2 separate regions of the Homo sapiens genome follow, and region 1 is linked to region 2. Evidence: fine-mapped expression QTL. Tissue or cell type: whole blood. Region 2 holds a variant in brackets; the other region holds the start of a gene. All regions are shown on one strand. Distances are between the middles of the regions.

The links. PIP is the estimated chance that this variant, and not a neighbour inherited with it, causes the effect.
Region 1: it holds the start of CD2, and the variant in region 2 is fine-mapped to the expression of CD2 in whole blood (INTERVAL, PIP above 0.99).

The regions. Positions count from the first base shown.
Region 1 is chr1:116,751,166-116,759,271 of GRCh38, forward strand. It overlaps CD2 (CD2 molecule), which reads left to right and starts at 3,265. Exons shown (of 5, transcript NM_001767.5): 1 at 3,265-3,388; 2 at 3,466-3,786. The coding sequence starts at 3,328. RefSeq lists promoters at 785-3,382, 2,940-3,382, cis regulatory regions at 1,015-1,514, 1,852-1,881 and a silencer at 1,515-2,018.
Region 2 is chr1:117,360,344-117,368,431 of GRCh38, forward strand. MAN1A2 (mannosidase alpha class 1A member 2) reads left to right here and starts at 7,106. Exons shown (of 13, transcript NM_006699.5): 1 at 7,106-8,088. The coding sequence starts at 7,841. RefSeq lists silencers at 3,362-3,421, 6,342-7,161 and an enhancer at 8,032-8,088. The variant A/G (reference allele first, on the strand shown) is at 3,411.

The DNA of each region.
Region 1 (8,106 bases), 610 kb before region 2:
ATCACTCAGAATTGAATTAGTTTTAGAGGAGCAAAATTAATGTTTCAAATAGAGGAACAGAAAGCTGCTCTTCACATGCTCCATGAGGAAAGTGTGAGGAAGAGAGGACAAGCGCCCTCCAAAGCTGAGATGGGTCAGAGGATGGCTGGCGCCACCTTCTCTCCACCAGGCCTTGACACACTGGAGTTGGATGGCAGCTGGTGGGTCAGCCACTCACAAACAGGAAGCTCCATGCTGCTCCTCTGGGTTGGCGATACTTTTGAAAAAATACGTGTGCCCTAAGCATCCTTTCTTAAAAAGACATTTTTTATTAACAAAAAAGGTGCTTATTTCCAAAATTTTAAACTTCACAGAAATAAATAAAATGTGAAAGAAACATAAAATCCTGGGACCCCAATTCATTATGCCAAAAGGAAAAATTAAGCTGAAAGTTGAGTCACACAAGAAACTGCCTTTCCTTGAGTTCCTAAGCAGAGAGTTACAGATAAAAAGCTGCTGTCTCCACGGGTAGCTACTCTATGTTCACCTTATCTTAAGAAAGTGCCAATTTACTGAGCATGAGAAGAATACAAATTGACCATTCCCCTACCTACTTTTTTTCTCTTGCAACATATGGATTCAGTAATGTGACTGTACCCTCCCTCCTTCCCCTCTGGCCAGCTTTTCCCCTTAACTGAAGGTTTTGAAATAATCTTGAGAAAAAGGCACAAACCACAGATTTTTCCTGTGGTTCTGTGTTCCTTTTTGTCCCTAATGTTGATGAAATAAACTTCTAAATTGATTGAGATCTGTCTCAAATTCTTTTTGGTTTACAAAGGTAAGAAGTGAAAATTTCATTTCAGTTCTCTCACAATCTAATACCTGAAAGACAAGCACTGTAAAAAAATTCAGCATCAACCCTTTCAGGCTTTTTTCCAACACATACCTTAATAACAACATAGTATGCTATGGTATACTGGTATACCCATAGCATAGTATAAACATAGTATCATATATAAAAAGGACTAATCCTATAGATATTGTTTTGCAATGTGCTCTTTTCATGTGATTTACCAAAAGCATCTTTCCATGTCTTACTTTTAGGCCTATGTTATACTATTTTGATGGTTATACAATATTTCATAATATGGATATACCATAATTTTAGTTGTTTGCAATTTTTTATTACAAAAATGCTACAACAAACGTCCTTGAACAGAATTTTAAAACATCTGTGCAATCATTTCTGTGGGATAGATTTCTCAAATTAAAATCACTAGGTGAGAAAAAGACATAAATTTTAAAGTTTGGTGGAAATGATAAATTCCTTTCCCCAGAAGGTATTGATTTACATTCCCTCTGATGTTGTATGAGGGTTCATTTCTCCACACACTCATGTTAATAATGTAAATTATCATCTTTTCTAATTTTACCAATCTGATGGTGAAAAATGGTATTTTATAGCTAAGATATATACATATATTTTTGGTCACATTAGACTCCTCTTGTAGGTTTGATATTTCTTCTGCGAAATATTTCTTCTGCAAGCTGATCATTTATATCATTTGCCCATTTTAAAAACTACTTTGTATTGATTGGTAAGAATTATTGGTAAGAATATTTTGAATATTAATAATTTTATATATATTGCAAATATTTTGTCACGCCTTTTCATTTTGTTCCTTATTTCTTCATCTGCATGTAAATCTTACTTCTTTATATCATCAGTTGTGTTCATCTTTTCTTTCTTACTTTGGATTATATGTTATATGTAGCCAGGCCTTCCATACTCAAACTATAGGAATATCTTTCTATATTGTCCTTTTAGCATTATTGTTATTATTTTATTTATTTAGTTATTTATTTTGAGACAGAGTCTCACTCTGCTCCCCAGGCTGGAGTGCAGTGGCACAATCCTGGCTCACTGCAACCTCCGCTTCCCAGATTCAAGCAATTTGCCTGCCTCAGCCTCCTGAGTAGCTGGGATTACAGGCGCACATCACCACACCTGGCTAATTTTTGTATTTTTAGTAGAGATGGGTTTCACCATGTTGGCCAGGCTGGTCTTGAACTCCTGACCTCAGGTGAGGAGGTCCGCCTCGACCTCCCAGAGTGCTGGGATTATAGCTGTGATCCACCACCCCCGGCCTCCTTTTAGCATTATTATAGTATTTTTGCATTTAAAACTTTAATCCAACTGTAGTTCATTATTGTGGATGACGCTCATACAACCATGAGGTAAATATTTGGCTTTCTTTTACCCAGTAACAGCAAACAACTGCTTTGACTTAATTTCATTTCCTTGGCAACTTTCTGACAGATAATATCCATATTTGTACTTAAAGTTGAAAAAGAAAACGAGCACCACTTTTGCAATTTTTACTCACTGTGACCTAAAGAATTATAACCCTGAAAATGTGCTTTGGAAGTCTGTCATGGTTATTTCTCTTTTTAGGCATCTTTTCAGGGCACACCCGTCTCTGCATCACTGTCTGTTTCCTTGTGTCACAAATTTCTGTTCTTTTTTTCTCTCCCTGTTCCCTCTCATTTATTTTTTCTCCTAATCTCTCCTTTTTCTTAACCACCTATAATGTTAATCACTTTAAATGCTTTTGACTCCTTTGTTTTGGTAGTTTAATTATATTTCATAGTCTCTATGCTTCTTTGTTTTGGAATAAGTTTTTATTTATCTAACTGTGAATTTCACTAGAGTTGTAAAATGTATGCCGAACATAGGATTTGGGGATTGCAAGCATTTACAGCTGATATTCAATTTCTTTCTTTTCACCACAAAAACGATTTTAGAACATGAAAAATATCTTTGGAGAAACAAAAAAATCAATTTCCTCATCATTTTATGGGTCTACATTTTTCAATATAATCATATGGGATAAATGTTTGCATTCTGCTATTGGCTTGTGAACATTTACCTATATTTCTATGTGGTCTTGTTAGGGACAGTATACCTAAGTGGATAAAAGGCTGTGTGGTTGAATTTGGCTTCTTGTTTACAAAAGAGTGATCCTTAGTGATCTACTTAGCCTCTCTGTTCCTTTTCTCTTTCACTGAGATGAGAAAACCTATCCTTCCCAATTTTTTTGTGTGAGAATTAAAATGCAGCAAGAAAACACACACTCATAAACACATCTGCTTTGGCAAAGGAGCACATCAGAAGGGCTGGCTTGTGCGCGCTCTTGCTCTCTGTGTATGTGTATTATGTTTTATGTTACTGTAAAAGATGTAAAGAGAGGCACGTGGTTAAGCTCTCGGGGTGTGGACTCCACCAGTCTCACTTCAGTTCCTTTTGCATGAAGAGCTCAGAATCAAAAGAGGAAACCAACCCCTAAGATGAGCTTTCCATGTAAATTTGTAGCCAGCTTCCTTCTGATTTTCAATGTTTCTTCCAAAGGTAAGCATAAGAGTCAAAGAAGTCCCAACCCAGCTTTCCCTGAAAGTGACTCTCAGTAACTCTTTTGCTTTTTATAGGTGCAGTCTCCAAAGAGATTACGAATGCCTTGGAAACCTGGGGTGCCTTGGGTCAGGACATCAACTTGGACATTCCTAGTTTTCAAATGAGTGATGATATTGACGATATAAAATGGGAAAAAACTTCAGACAAGAAAAAGATTGCACAATTCAGAAAAGAGAAAGAGACTTTCAAGGAAAAAGATACATATAAGCTATTTAAAAATGGAACTCTGAAAATTAAGCATCTGAAGACCGATGATCAGGATATCTACAAGGTATCAATATATGATACAAAAGGAAAAAATGTGTTGGAAAAAATATTTGATTTGAAGATTCAAGGTAAGTGTTCATTCCCTTAATTGCTTTATTTCAGTGTGGGTGCTATTTGGCAAGTTGGAAAATAGCATTTCTAATATTCCCCAGCGCTGACCTCTGCCTCCAGGGGGGCTATACAGGAAACCAGATGCATGTCTCCTGCCCCAGTGGAGACTGTGGTCCAATGCGGGAATGGGATCCACACATCTGATAGACCCTCAAGTCTACCTGCCTACAACTCTGTCTTCAGGTGGTTACAGGAATGTGGGGTTGGGTGAAGAACCTGGATTAAGGTGGCATTAATCGGGAGGGGGACACAGGTAGGCCGAGGGAAAAGGCAACTGTTCCAGGTTGCTGATGAATCGGCGAGCTAAGAGTGGGGCGAGAAGAAGAGGCTGACTGGAGAGCAGCGGGCCTTTCATCGACAGAGCCCATTTCAAGCCAGGCTGCCCTGAAGGAGGAGTTATATGGCAGAAAAGGGCTGGAAACAACATATTTAAGGATGAACAGCCCTTATTTTGGATCTGCTTGTCAGAGTGATACAAGGTGGCAGGTGATTTTTGCTGATATGTGTAGAAGATGCACAAGGTGTGGCTTTGTATATCTCTGCCTGTACTGGGAGGACAGGAGTGGATATTGAGGATGGGGTTAGGGAGACTAGTTAGAAAGCTGCTGCTGTAATCCAAGTGGAGTGAGGACCAATTAAATCAGATTTTTTTTGCATGCGGCCTGGGTATCATTAGGTTCTAAAGCTCCCTGGGGGATTCTAATGAGCTGCCAAAGTCAATCGCCACTGGCCTAGACCAAAGGGTGCCTCTAAAATAGGAAGAATGAGGATAATAAGGGTCAGGCATAGAGAAAGGTGGCTTAGGCAAGGGAGAGAAGGTAGAGAAAGTGGAATCGAAATGCCATTGAAGTTGAAAGCCCGGGGGGATGCTGGGGAAGTAGTGACAAGAAGGGAAAAGAAGAAGCTGCGCTTGACTTGGGGAGGCAGACAGGAACCCCAGCATGAGCACAGGCCAGCCATTCAGTGAGCAAATAAGCATTTCTGTGCTTCACACAGAAAATATCACCAGAAGCAGGGACCCCACCTTCTTCCTCTCTGTCTCCAGCCCCATCTTCAGCACCTGGGCCTACCAGCAATCCCAGATAGTGTCAGATTGCCCACTCCAGCAATCCCAGACACTGTCAGCTCCCCTGAAGTGACAACTTTCCACACCCTAGTCCTGCAACCTTGAGTGGAGAGCACCTTGTAGAAATGTAGTGGGGTTGAGCATGGCGCTGAAAAGGGCCTCTGATTATGGGCTCTGGAAACCACAGATCTCAGGACTCCAAACAGCACAAAACTCGAGTGTCCTGTTTTGAGTGTGAGCCCTACGCGGGGGACCATGCTGGTGTTTTCACATTTGGGTCGCATTTAGCATTGCGGCGGAAATAATGGCTACCAGTTAGGGGTCAAGTGCTTGCTTACATGATCTTATTTAAAGCGCCCAACAATACTGAGACCTAGTTGTTATTATCTCCTTGTTATATATAAGAAAACAGAGACCTAGTCAGAAGCAGCTTGTCCAAGGTCTCATTGCTTGACAGGAGCAAAGTCAGGATTCAAACTCAGAGGTCTTTTTGGCAAGAATGACGACCTTTTCTTTTTTTTTCCAAGCAGCTTCATTGAGATAATTCATCTACCATTCAATTTGTCCATATACTAAAATGGCCTTCAGTATATTCAGAGTTTTGTAACCATCACCACAATCAACATTTTCATTGCCCCAAAAAGAAACCCTTCACCCTTTAGCCGAAAGACAGTGACTTGCTTTATGTGTGTGCACGTCAATGTCATACAACATCTTGATTCAACTTGTAGTTGGTCACTATTACCAGACTTAAGGTGACCATGGCCTTGGGCAAATTCCCTATCTGCTGTGAGTCTGCTTTTCCAATGACAACTTCAAGGGATATTCAGTGAGACAAGGTGTGTACAAGTGTCCTGCAGTGCCTGGGGCACAATGCCTGTTTTCTCAGTGCTAATGCCCTCCCACATCTCTTTGTTTCTCCAAGCTTCTCTTTTTTTTTTTTTTTTTTTAATTGAGATGGCATCTTGCTCTGTTGCCCAGGCTGGAGTGCACTGGCATGATCTCAGCTCACTGCAGCCTCTGCCTCCCAGGTTCAAGCGATTCTCCTGCCTCAGCCTCCCAAGTAGCTGGGATTACAGGCATGTACCACCACGTCCGGCTAATTTTTGTATTTTTAGTAGAGACGGGGTTTCGCCATGTTGGTCAGGCTGGTCTCAAACTCCTGACCTCAGGGGATCCGCCTGCATCGGCCTCCCAAAGTGCTGGGATTACAGGTGTGAACCACGCACCCGGCCTCCAAACTTCTCAAACTCCAGTAGTTGTGCCTGCATTTCCTTCATGAGGGAGTTGCTGCTGCAGGCTGAAGAGGCAATGGAGGGCCCCTTAGAAGCAGATGCTAGTAGGGAAGGGGTTAATCCCAGCAACTCAGAATTAAGGAGTTCTCATCCATGGAAGGCCTTAGGTTGGATCAGTTCTAAGACGCTATCTTAGTGAATGTATACGGAGGTACTACTCCACAAGGGTGCCCATCACTGCATTATTCATGTTAGCGAAATACTAGAACAGTCAGCAGTTAGAAACTTATTAATCAGTTAAATTAAGAATGCATCCTTTAAAAAGATGCATATATGCATTTATTGATGTTCATTAAGAAAAGAACTTCATAATATAATTTCACAATAAAGGGGAAAAGGCAGACTGTAAGATCACATAAATTAGTTTTAATTTTTAAAATATTACATATATATATATAGAGAGAGAGAGAGAGAGAGAGAGGCAGACAGAAAGAGACAGGGTCTCACTCTGTCGTCCAGCCTGGAGTGCAGTGGTGAAATATTGGCTCACTGCAGCCTCTGCCTCTTGGGTTCAAGCAATTCTCATGCCTCAGCCTCCTGAGTAGTTTGGATTAGAGGCGCATGCCAACACACCTGGCTAATCTTCATATTTTTAGTAGAGATGTATTTCACCATGTTGGCCAGGCTACTCTTGAACTCCTGGCCTCAAGAGATCCGCCCACCTTAGCCTCCCAAAGTGCTGGATTACAGGCATGAGCCACCTCTCCCAGCTGAAATATTATATTATTTATATATATACATATAAATAGAAAATATCTGCTAAAGATATACATGAAAATATTATTCATTATTGACTTTGAGTGGTGGCGTTGTGGGTAATTTTTAATCTGCTTTAAACTTTTAAAAATATTTTATCAGCTTGTACAATGATTGGAGTTGAAAGCCCACGGATGCTGGGCAGGGAGTGATAAGAAGGGAAAAGAGGAAGCTGGCTTGGGGAGGAAGACAGGAACCCCAGCATGAGCACAGGCCAGCCATTCAGTGAGCAAATAAGCATTTCTGTGCTTCACACAGAAAATGTCGCCAGAAGCAGGGACCCCACCTTCTTCCTCTCTGTCTCCAGCCCCATCTTCAGCACCTGGGCCTACCAGCAATCCCAGATAGTGTCAGATTGCCCACTCCAGCAATCCCAGACACTGTCAGCTCCCCTGAAGTGACAACTTTCCACACCCTAGTCCTGCAACCTTGAGTGGAGAGCACCTTGTAGAAATGTAGTGGGGTTGAGCATGGCGCTGAAAAGAGCCTCTGATTATGGGCTCTGGAAACCACAGATCTCAGGACTCCAAACAGCACAGAACTCGAGTGTCCTGTTTTGAGTGTGAGCCCTACATGGGGGACCATGTTGGTGTTTTCACATTTGGGTCACATTTAGCATTGCGGCGGAAATAATGGCTACCAGTTAGGGGTCAAGTGCTTGCTTACATGATCTTATTTAAAGCGCCCAACAATACTGAGACCTAGTTGTTATTATCTCCTTGTTATATATAAGAAAACAGAGACCTAGTCAGAAGCAGCTTGTCCAAGGTCTCATTGCTTGACAGGAGCAAAGTCAGGATTCAAACTCAGAGGTCTTTTTGGCAAGGATGATGACCTTTTCTTTTTTTTCTAAACAGCTTCATTGAGATAATTCACCTATCATTCAATTTGTCCATACACTAAAACGGCCTTTAGTATATTCAGAGTTTTGCAACCATCACCACAATCATGTTACTGTGTTGCTGTTATAAGTAGAAAAAAAATATTTCCATTCTGAAGAGACGGGCAAACTTCGTGACCCAACCTCTAGACTATGTACTAACTCTGTTGCTGAATGTTGATAATTTCCATTTTCTTCCTTCTCAGTAACGCAGAATCTTGGGATGAGAAGAAAACTTTTAATTTAATTTCTGCATGCCTATATATATCGGGACATAAAT
Region 2 (8,088 bases):
TTCTCATTCCTCTAAGTCTTGTCTTTTTCTTTCCTTCCTTCCTTCCTCCCTCCCTCCTTTCTTCCTTCCCTCTCTGTCTCTTTTATTTTTATTTTTTGAGACAGAGTTTTGCTCTTGTTGCCCAGGCTGGAGTGCAATGGTGCAATCTTGGCTCACTGTAATCTCCGCCTCCCGGGTTCAAGAGATTCTACTGCCTCAGCCTCCTGAGTAGCTGGGATTACAGACGTGTGCCACCACGCCCGGCTAATTTTGTATTTTTAGTAGAGACGAGTTTTCTCCATGTTGGTCAGGCTGGTCTCGAACTCCCGACCTCAGGTGATCTGCCCACCTTGGCCTCTCAAAGTGCCGGAATTACAGGTGTGAGCCACCGCACCTGGCCCTTTTGTCTCTTTCTTTGGAGACAAGCTCTTGCCAGTTTGGAGTCCAGTGGTACCATCATAGCTCATGGCAGCCTTGAACTCCTGGGCTCAAGCTATGGGAGACGAGTTTCCCTTAACACATGCCATGCCCTTTCTCCTTCCTCTATTCCTTGTCCCCCCTCCCTTCTTCCCTTCCCTTCCCTCCTTCTCTTCCTTTCCCTCCTTTCCTTCCCTTCCCTCCTCCCCTACCCTTCCTTTCTCTTCCCTCTCTTTTATCTTTTGAGACAAGGACTTGCTCTATTACACCTTGAACTCCTGGGCTCAAGCTATCCTCCACCTCAGCTTCCTAAGCAGCTAGGACTACAGGCGCACACCACCGTGCCCAGCTAATTTTTAAATTTTTTTGTAGAGACACGGTCTCACCACATTTCCCAGGCTTCCAAAGCTGGGATTACGGGTGTGAGCCACCACACCTGGTCCCTGTAAGTATTTTCAAAGGCTCTTCCTTCCTCTCTTTATCTACCAACTCTTACTTTTTCTAATGCCTATAATAAAAACAATAGTTAATACTTATTGAATCCCAACTATGGGGGGAAGCACTATCACATACATTATTGAGTTTAATCCTCATAACAACCCTATGAGGTGTGTATTTTTATCCTGATTTTATGGATGAATAAATTAAGAACAAGTAAGATTTCCTTTGTTTCCAATATTATGCAAGTAAATGTCAGAGGCAAGATTAGGCCCAGGTTTCTCCAGCTCCAGAGCCCATGTTCTTTTCATCATATACAGCTGCTTCTCATGTTTTATTCATCTCTGGATGCCTAGAACACTGCATAACACCAACAGAGAGTGAGTGCTCAATAATAATGAATGAATGAATATATAAATCAATGAAACATATTCTCAAATTAGCTGCCTAGAATGGATTTAAAACAATTTTAATATAAGGATTTATAAAGAATTCCTAACCTCTTTTGGAGTCAAATTCCTTTTCATAAAGGTGGATATGAGGATCCAACTTGGAAGGTTTCTGTAGGGGTTGCTAGCTTTGATATACCTCTGCAGTCACATCTGTCCAGCCCTCCCAGTTTTAGGTTTTCTTTCCCTGGCCGACCACAGAGACATCTCTGCTGGTTTCATTCTGCTTTTGTCCCTGCCCAAGCTTGTTGCCTACCTGAAAGAGTAGGTTCCTTCTAGTCCCTGATCACTTATACTTGTAAAACTACTGAAGCTTCACATACTACTACCAGCCACAATACCTCCATGTAAAGACACACTGTGTATTAGTCAAGACTCTTGAATGTAAGCCACAGAAACTAATTCTGACTGAAAAAGAAATTTATAGACTTATACAACCGAGAAATTCAAAAGATGAAATAGCCTTAGATATACCTGGATTCAGAGAAGTAGATTTACAATGAGCCCAATGAAGTTTAAATTTCTGGGTTACTAATTGCTCGGTCCTGTCTTAGGCTCTGGGAGAGGTCCTAGCAACATGTATACATAATCATGTTTTTCTAAATCTTGTAAAAATAAAATATTTCAATCACGATTGGTTAAGATTGTGGTTTCTTTTCTACTCTGATTTCCTATCCGTCACACTGCTCCATTGGTCGCGTGGGTCGGGTGGTGGTGGTGTGGTCTCAGCATTACTAAGACATACTCACTTGTAATGGAATTCAGTTTAGCAAAATCCTTTTTTTTTTTTCCTGAAATGGAGTCTCACTGTGTCACCAGGCTGGAGTGCAGTGGCGCGATCTTGGCTCACTGCAATCTTTGCCTCCCGGGTTCAAGCGATTCTTCTGCCTCAGCCTCCTGAGTAGCTGGGATTACAGGCGCTCGCCACCACACCCAGCTAATTTTTGTATTTTTAGTAGAGACGGGTTTTCACCAGGCTGGCCATGATGGTCTTAATCTCCTGACCTCATGATCCACCTGCCTCGGCCTCCCAAAGTGTTGGGATTACAGGTGTGAGCCACCACACCCGCCCTAAAATCCACTTTAATAATTCATTTTGTATTATTTTTCTTAAAGAGGACTCCTCAAATTAGGTATGCTTCCAGCCCCACAAGACCCAGATCCACCCTTACCAAGGGCTCAAGTGATACCATGTAGATACTTTCTCTCTCACTGTTTCAGCTCTTTTCTTCTCTGTTTGCTTCATTAGTAGCAAACTTCCTCACATGGTGGCAAGAAGGCCACTGGCAGCTCTAAGGTTATAGCACGCTCAGGGCTGGGAATTCTAAGGTAAAGAGATACCACTTTTGCTGATGACATCAGGAAATGACCTAAGGAGGGTTTGGATTAGCTTGGTTTGTGTCACTTGCCCTTTTCCAAACCAATCATTATGGCCAGGGAAATGTGGAACACAGGTTAGTCAAATCTGGGTAACATTCCTGGATCTAGTTAATGGTGGGAGCAAGTGCTATAGTGGGTGGTTGAGAGGTCATCCCAATCTAGACCAATAGACTAAGACCGGGGAAAAGATAGTTTTCTAAAGGAATGCTAGACAAACTGGAATTTCATGTTTCCAAGTCACACAAACACAACCATCAGCAACCTATTATTCTGAATAGAACAAACAAGTCTTTAGAGCATTTTAGAAACAATAGCTCATTTGATCCTTAAACAGTCCTATAAAATAGGTAAGGACTATTATGTTTTATAAATAAGGAAACTCAGTAAGGAGTAGAGCTAGGTTTGAAATCCATGTCTTTTGACTCCTAGTTCAGTACCTCATATACATTTAAAGGGCTTCACTTTATTAATGGATTTAAAGAGGTGAAACATTGCCTGAAACAAGAGGGTACTGCCTGTGAAAGCACGAATACCATCTATGTCTTTTCATTACAGAAACATGTTGGCAATACCCATTAGTCATTCTGAACCCATTTTATTTGCAATGCAATAGCACTGCCCCACCATTTTCACTTTCCCAGCTCAAGAGTGTTGTGAGATTAGGGCCAGGCAAGCTATTTACTGGACGAGTAGAGCAGGAAGTGTTCTGCGTAAATGGCAGGAAAAACCAGCTATGGGTGCCTGCGC[A/G]TGCTCTGCTCCCTAGGCTGGAGCACGACCCTTCTCTTATGGTTCAAGGCTCAGCTCAGGTGACACTGGATTGGGGAACTTTCCCTAACTTTCCCAATCCACCTCCTCTCACTCTGTGGCACCTTCAGTGTTCCCATAAAGCCCGTGACACTTTGCTCCAACAGCATTCTTCCCACTGTCTTGTAATCGTCAGTGTTCATCTACTCCTCCACACTAGACTGCAAGCTCACTGAGCATAAGGATTCTGACTTATTTCTCCAAATCTCCAGCACCTAGTACAGGATTTGTCAAATAGTAGTCCTCCAACAAATGAGTCTTTTATAAGCAAATGAGCCTCACGTACTTTGGCTCAGAGAAGCAGCCAAGATTTTTTGGCTTTGCCGACTTTCACGGATCTTACTTGAGGGCTTCACAGCACTGAACTTCAGTTTATCCCTGACCTCTGAGGAAAATGCCTCATAGAGGAAAGCAAGATTGGAAGGAGCAAGGCTGAAGCCTGTTATTTCCCTACACATTCAGTGGTCACGTCGAGTAATTTCTCCTCCAATATCTTCCTTGTACATTTTGGGCACCAGTTGGAACAGGTTACATAAGTAAATCAAAAGCCTCTTTTTGCATACCAGCTTTTATTTTTTTCCTGTAGCACTTCAGTTTCACTTAAAACAGAGCTAGGGGTGTATGTGTGTGTGTGTGTGTGTGTGTGTGCATGCGTGTGTGTATAACAGGTGTGAAATGGTTTCAATAATAGAAAAGTCAACACATGGTTGAACAAATACAAGTAACTTCCACATTGCAATACGAGTGGATCTTAGGAGTGGTCCTGTAAATCTGCAGGAGTAAATTTTGTTAGTAATTTATTAATTCTAATTTCTAAAATATTAATTTATATGGATTTGTAAAAGGGAAATCATCACTTTGGAATCTCTGATCAAAGGGTAACTACTCTTTGAAAATGAAATATTCTTTTTAGACTCTCTGGAATGAAATCCTTCCCTGTTGTACGTGTACACACACATACACACATACATAGAACAGGCTGCATACTGTTTCTGCCGATTGCCTTCAGATGGGCCGGTCTGTGTGTTCATCTTGATACTACCGAGTCTACCTATTTGAAATTTGACCTTAACTTTTTCAGGCACCAGTTCCTTTATAATTTTTATTTAATTGTAAATATAATGCAACAGAATACAATGGAGAAAATCATACGTAAAACCAGTATCTTAACAGAATAGTTGCAATCTTTTTCAAATATTCTTTTTCTATGTTTTTAAGTGCATATAATTATAATTAATGGATACATTTGCAACTTTTTTTTTTTTAAACAACATGATTCTTTAAAAACTCAGACTTGCCTTTAGAAGAGTGGATATATGTAATACTATGTATACAGTATTTTCATTGCTGGTGTAGGAGTGTGATAACTGACGGTATCATCAATGACTTTAAAATTGCTGGCTGCATTTGGACATCTGCAATAACCCCTAAATTGTTTTTACTCTCATGAAGGAAAAATGAATTTTGCAAAACAGACAAGCAAAGGAAAAGGGGTCTTCTCCATCAGCAATGAGGTCTTACTTGCTTAAGCTATACTTGTCAACTAGGTTATGTCAGGTTTCATGATTGAAATCTCTTGTGGTTAAGTCTAGTGTTAACCTAGGTAATATTTATTTTTCAAGATTTATATAACTTGCTATTTCATTCAGAGTTCAGTATTTATTTCCCCTGAACTTTTCATGGAAACTAATGATCTCAACAGTAGGAAAACAGTGTGTTCTTCCCCGCCTCCCCACCGCCCCCCCCACTTTGGCTTACGGAGTCTCAACATTAGAGACTTATTCTTAAATTTGGCACATTTTATAAAGACATATTGGGAAGGCTAAAAGTTTCTTATATCTACTCTTCACAAATGTTCAACATAAATCTCACTAGGGACCGGGCACTCCTTGCTTACCAGTCTCCCTGGGTGAACTGGTGAGAGGTGGCCCTCAATATTTTTACTTTTTATTTGGTGAAGCAGGATCAATGACAATGACTTTTGTCATGTGGTAGGCAGTTAGATATGCAGAGCTTCTAGAAATAATGCAGACTGGGAGACTGGAATGTAGTTACAAGTGTGCCAATGAACATGAGACTTTTCTGCTTGATTTTTAAGCTAAGGCTGACTTACTCTCCTGACATTTAAGGGCCTCCTCTCCAATTCCCAGTCATCAGTAAAGGATGTGTACAGGGAATGACAATATTAGAACAAAAACAACCTGCAAGTAAATCGGATGCAAGAGTCTATGTATCTTGCAAGGAAATCTTTTGCACTTAATCACAACATGGCTCTCCTCAATACTACGGAGAACAGAATTGATTCAGATTGTTTTTAAGCCTGAACGTAAACAATATTGTCGCCTTTTTGGGTTTCAGCACCTCCTTATTCATCCATTTTCTCTTTTATGGGAAGGGGGTTGATGAGGTGTGTGAAGATGATAGAACGTGCCCCAGAAACTGAACAATGAAGAGACGCCTGTCATATCGGGGGTACCTAGATTCCTCTGAAAGGAAGCCCAGCTGAAGGAGCAGGGTCACCACTTTATTTTAAAAACGTAACATGGCACATGTTGGTGCTCTATTAATCGAGCCTCGGGGGCCCAATAACGTGAGCATGGGCTGCTGCGTGGAAGTTTGAGACCCTGTTGCTGAATCCTCGGGCCTGACGGTCTATCGCTGAAGACAAGACTTCCAAAGAATCACAGTAAACGTTAACCTAAGCCATCAGAAGCCATTAACTCCGGTGACACTACATTTCAGCGAAACCTTCGCGACCCAACCCCTCGCTCCCTCTCGCCCAAACGCTGGGTCAACCCCACGAACTGGCGGTGGCAAGGCCCTGGGCACCGGTGAAGTTCTCGTGGCAGCGCAGATCGGCGACCTTCTCTTCTTTCGCGCTCAGACGGCGGCGGCAGCAGTACGCTTTCGGGCTGCTGGAGCCGGCAGCGGCGCGAGGCCGGAGCCCGGGCAGCCAGGCTGGGTGGGGGAGGGGCGGCGGCAGCGGAGCCGGGAGCGTGCGCGCGCACCTCACACTCCGCCGCCCGGGGACGCCCACTCGCGAGCCGGGGCCGGTAGGCCGGCCCGGGTCCCATCGCCCCCGCCCTCCGGTTCCTCTCCGGCGTGAGCCCAACGGGTGTCGGCCCAGCAGCTGCTGCGCTCACCAGGCCTGGGGAGGCAGGGTACGGGGACCGGGCCGCAGCCCCGAGCGGCGTGGGCGCGCTGCCTCTCTGGCAGCCGCCGCCAGAGCCAGCAGCTGCGAGCCACCGGAGGCGGCGCGGAGGAGGCCCCCGCGGCCGGGCAGGAAGGAGACGCGGCCGACCTCTGCCCGCCCGAGGCGCGGCTGCTCCCGCGCGCCCAGGCCCTCCCGCCGCTCCAGGGCTGAGTGAGGAATGAGCCGGCGCCTACCCCGGGCTCTCGGAGCGTGGGCCCCGGCTCGGCTTCTTAGGCGCGAGGGCTCGGCCACTGCGGCCGGCGGCCTAGCTCGGGGAGCAGGCGCCGGGGTTCACTGAACCGGCCGCGGAGAGGAGGAGGAGGAGGAGGAAGAGGAGGAGGAGGAGGAGGAGGAGCTCGGCGGGGGCGGCCGCCGCGCCTCCCCTCCCCCAGGACACGCCGGGGCTTCTCAGTGGCCGCCGGAGGAGGAAGTTCCGCTCCCTGACAGACCCGTGCGGTAGCAACAGCGGCGGCGGCCGCGGCGGCTGGCCGGACTCAGGTGTTTCGGACGCTATTGCCCTTCGCGCCAGCCGTCGAGTGGGCAGCAGCGGGACTCAGCCGGGCGCCAGGTTCCTGCCAGGCAGCGCCGGGAAGCGCGGGCGGCCGAGAACTCCTTCCTGCTACTTCGCCCAGCGCCGCTGCTTCGGCTTCCCAGCGAAGTGGGAGACCTTCCTCCCTGTTTGCAGACGTCCGTGGGAGACCCTTATTTTTTCCACCGCTAAGGTTAAGAGATTCTGGAATAGAAGCGTCGAAGGAGATCAAGTGAACCTTCTACAACTCCTCGGATGTCGCCAGTCTCCCTTTCGGGGCGGAAGACTACGTTTGAGCATCTCACTGAGGTGCAGGAATGGAAGAACCCACCTTGCAGCTTTTCTGCAGTGTGGCTTGCCTGATCTACCCCTAGGAATGAAGAGGAGGCTTGTAATAATCCGATGAAGTACAGATGTTGAAGAGGATATCGCAGGACCTAAACTTGTGATCGTTTGGGGGAGGTCACACACGTTTCTGAGTGGGAATGGATGGGCGTGAATGACGTGCCCTCTTAAAAAGCACAACAGTCCTTTAAGAGGAGCAAAATTGAGTTTTCCCATTTTGGCCAAGATTTTGAAGACAGTTCAATGTATTCTACATTTGACATAAGATGAGAACTTTCTAAAGTATTCTCTCCAAGAGCGTAAACGATGACTACCCCAGCCCTGCTGCCCCTCTCTGGACGTAGGATACCACCTCTGAACCTGGGGCCGCCTTCCTTCCCACATCACAGGGCTACCTTGAGACTTTCTGAGAAGTTTATTCTTCTCCTTATTCTTAGTGCCTTCATCACTCTGTGTTTTGGGGCATTCTTTTTCCTTCCAGACTCTTCAAAACACAAACGCTTTGATTTGGGTTTAGAAGATGTGTTAATTCCACATGTAGATGCCGGTAAAGG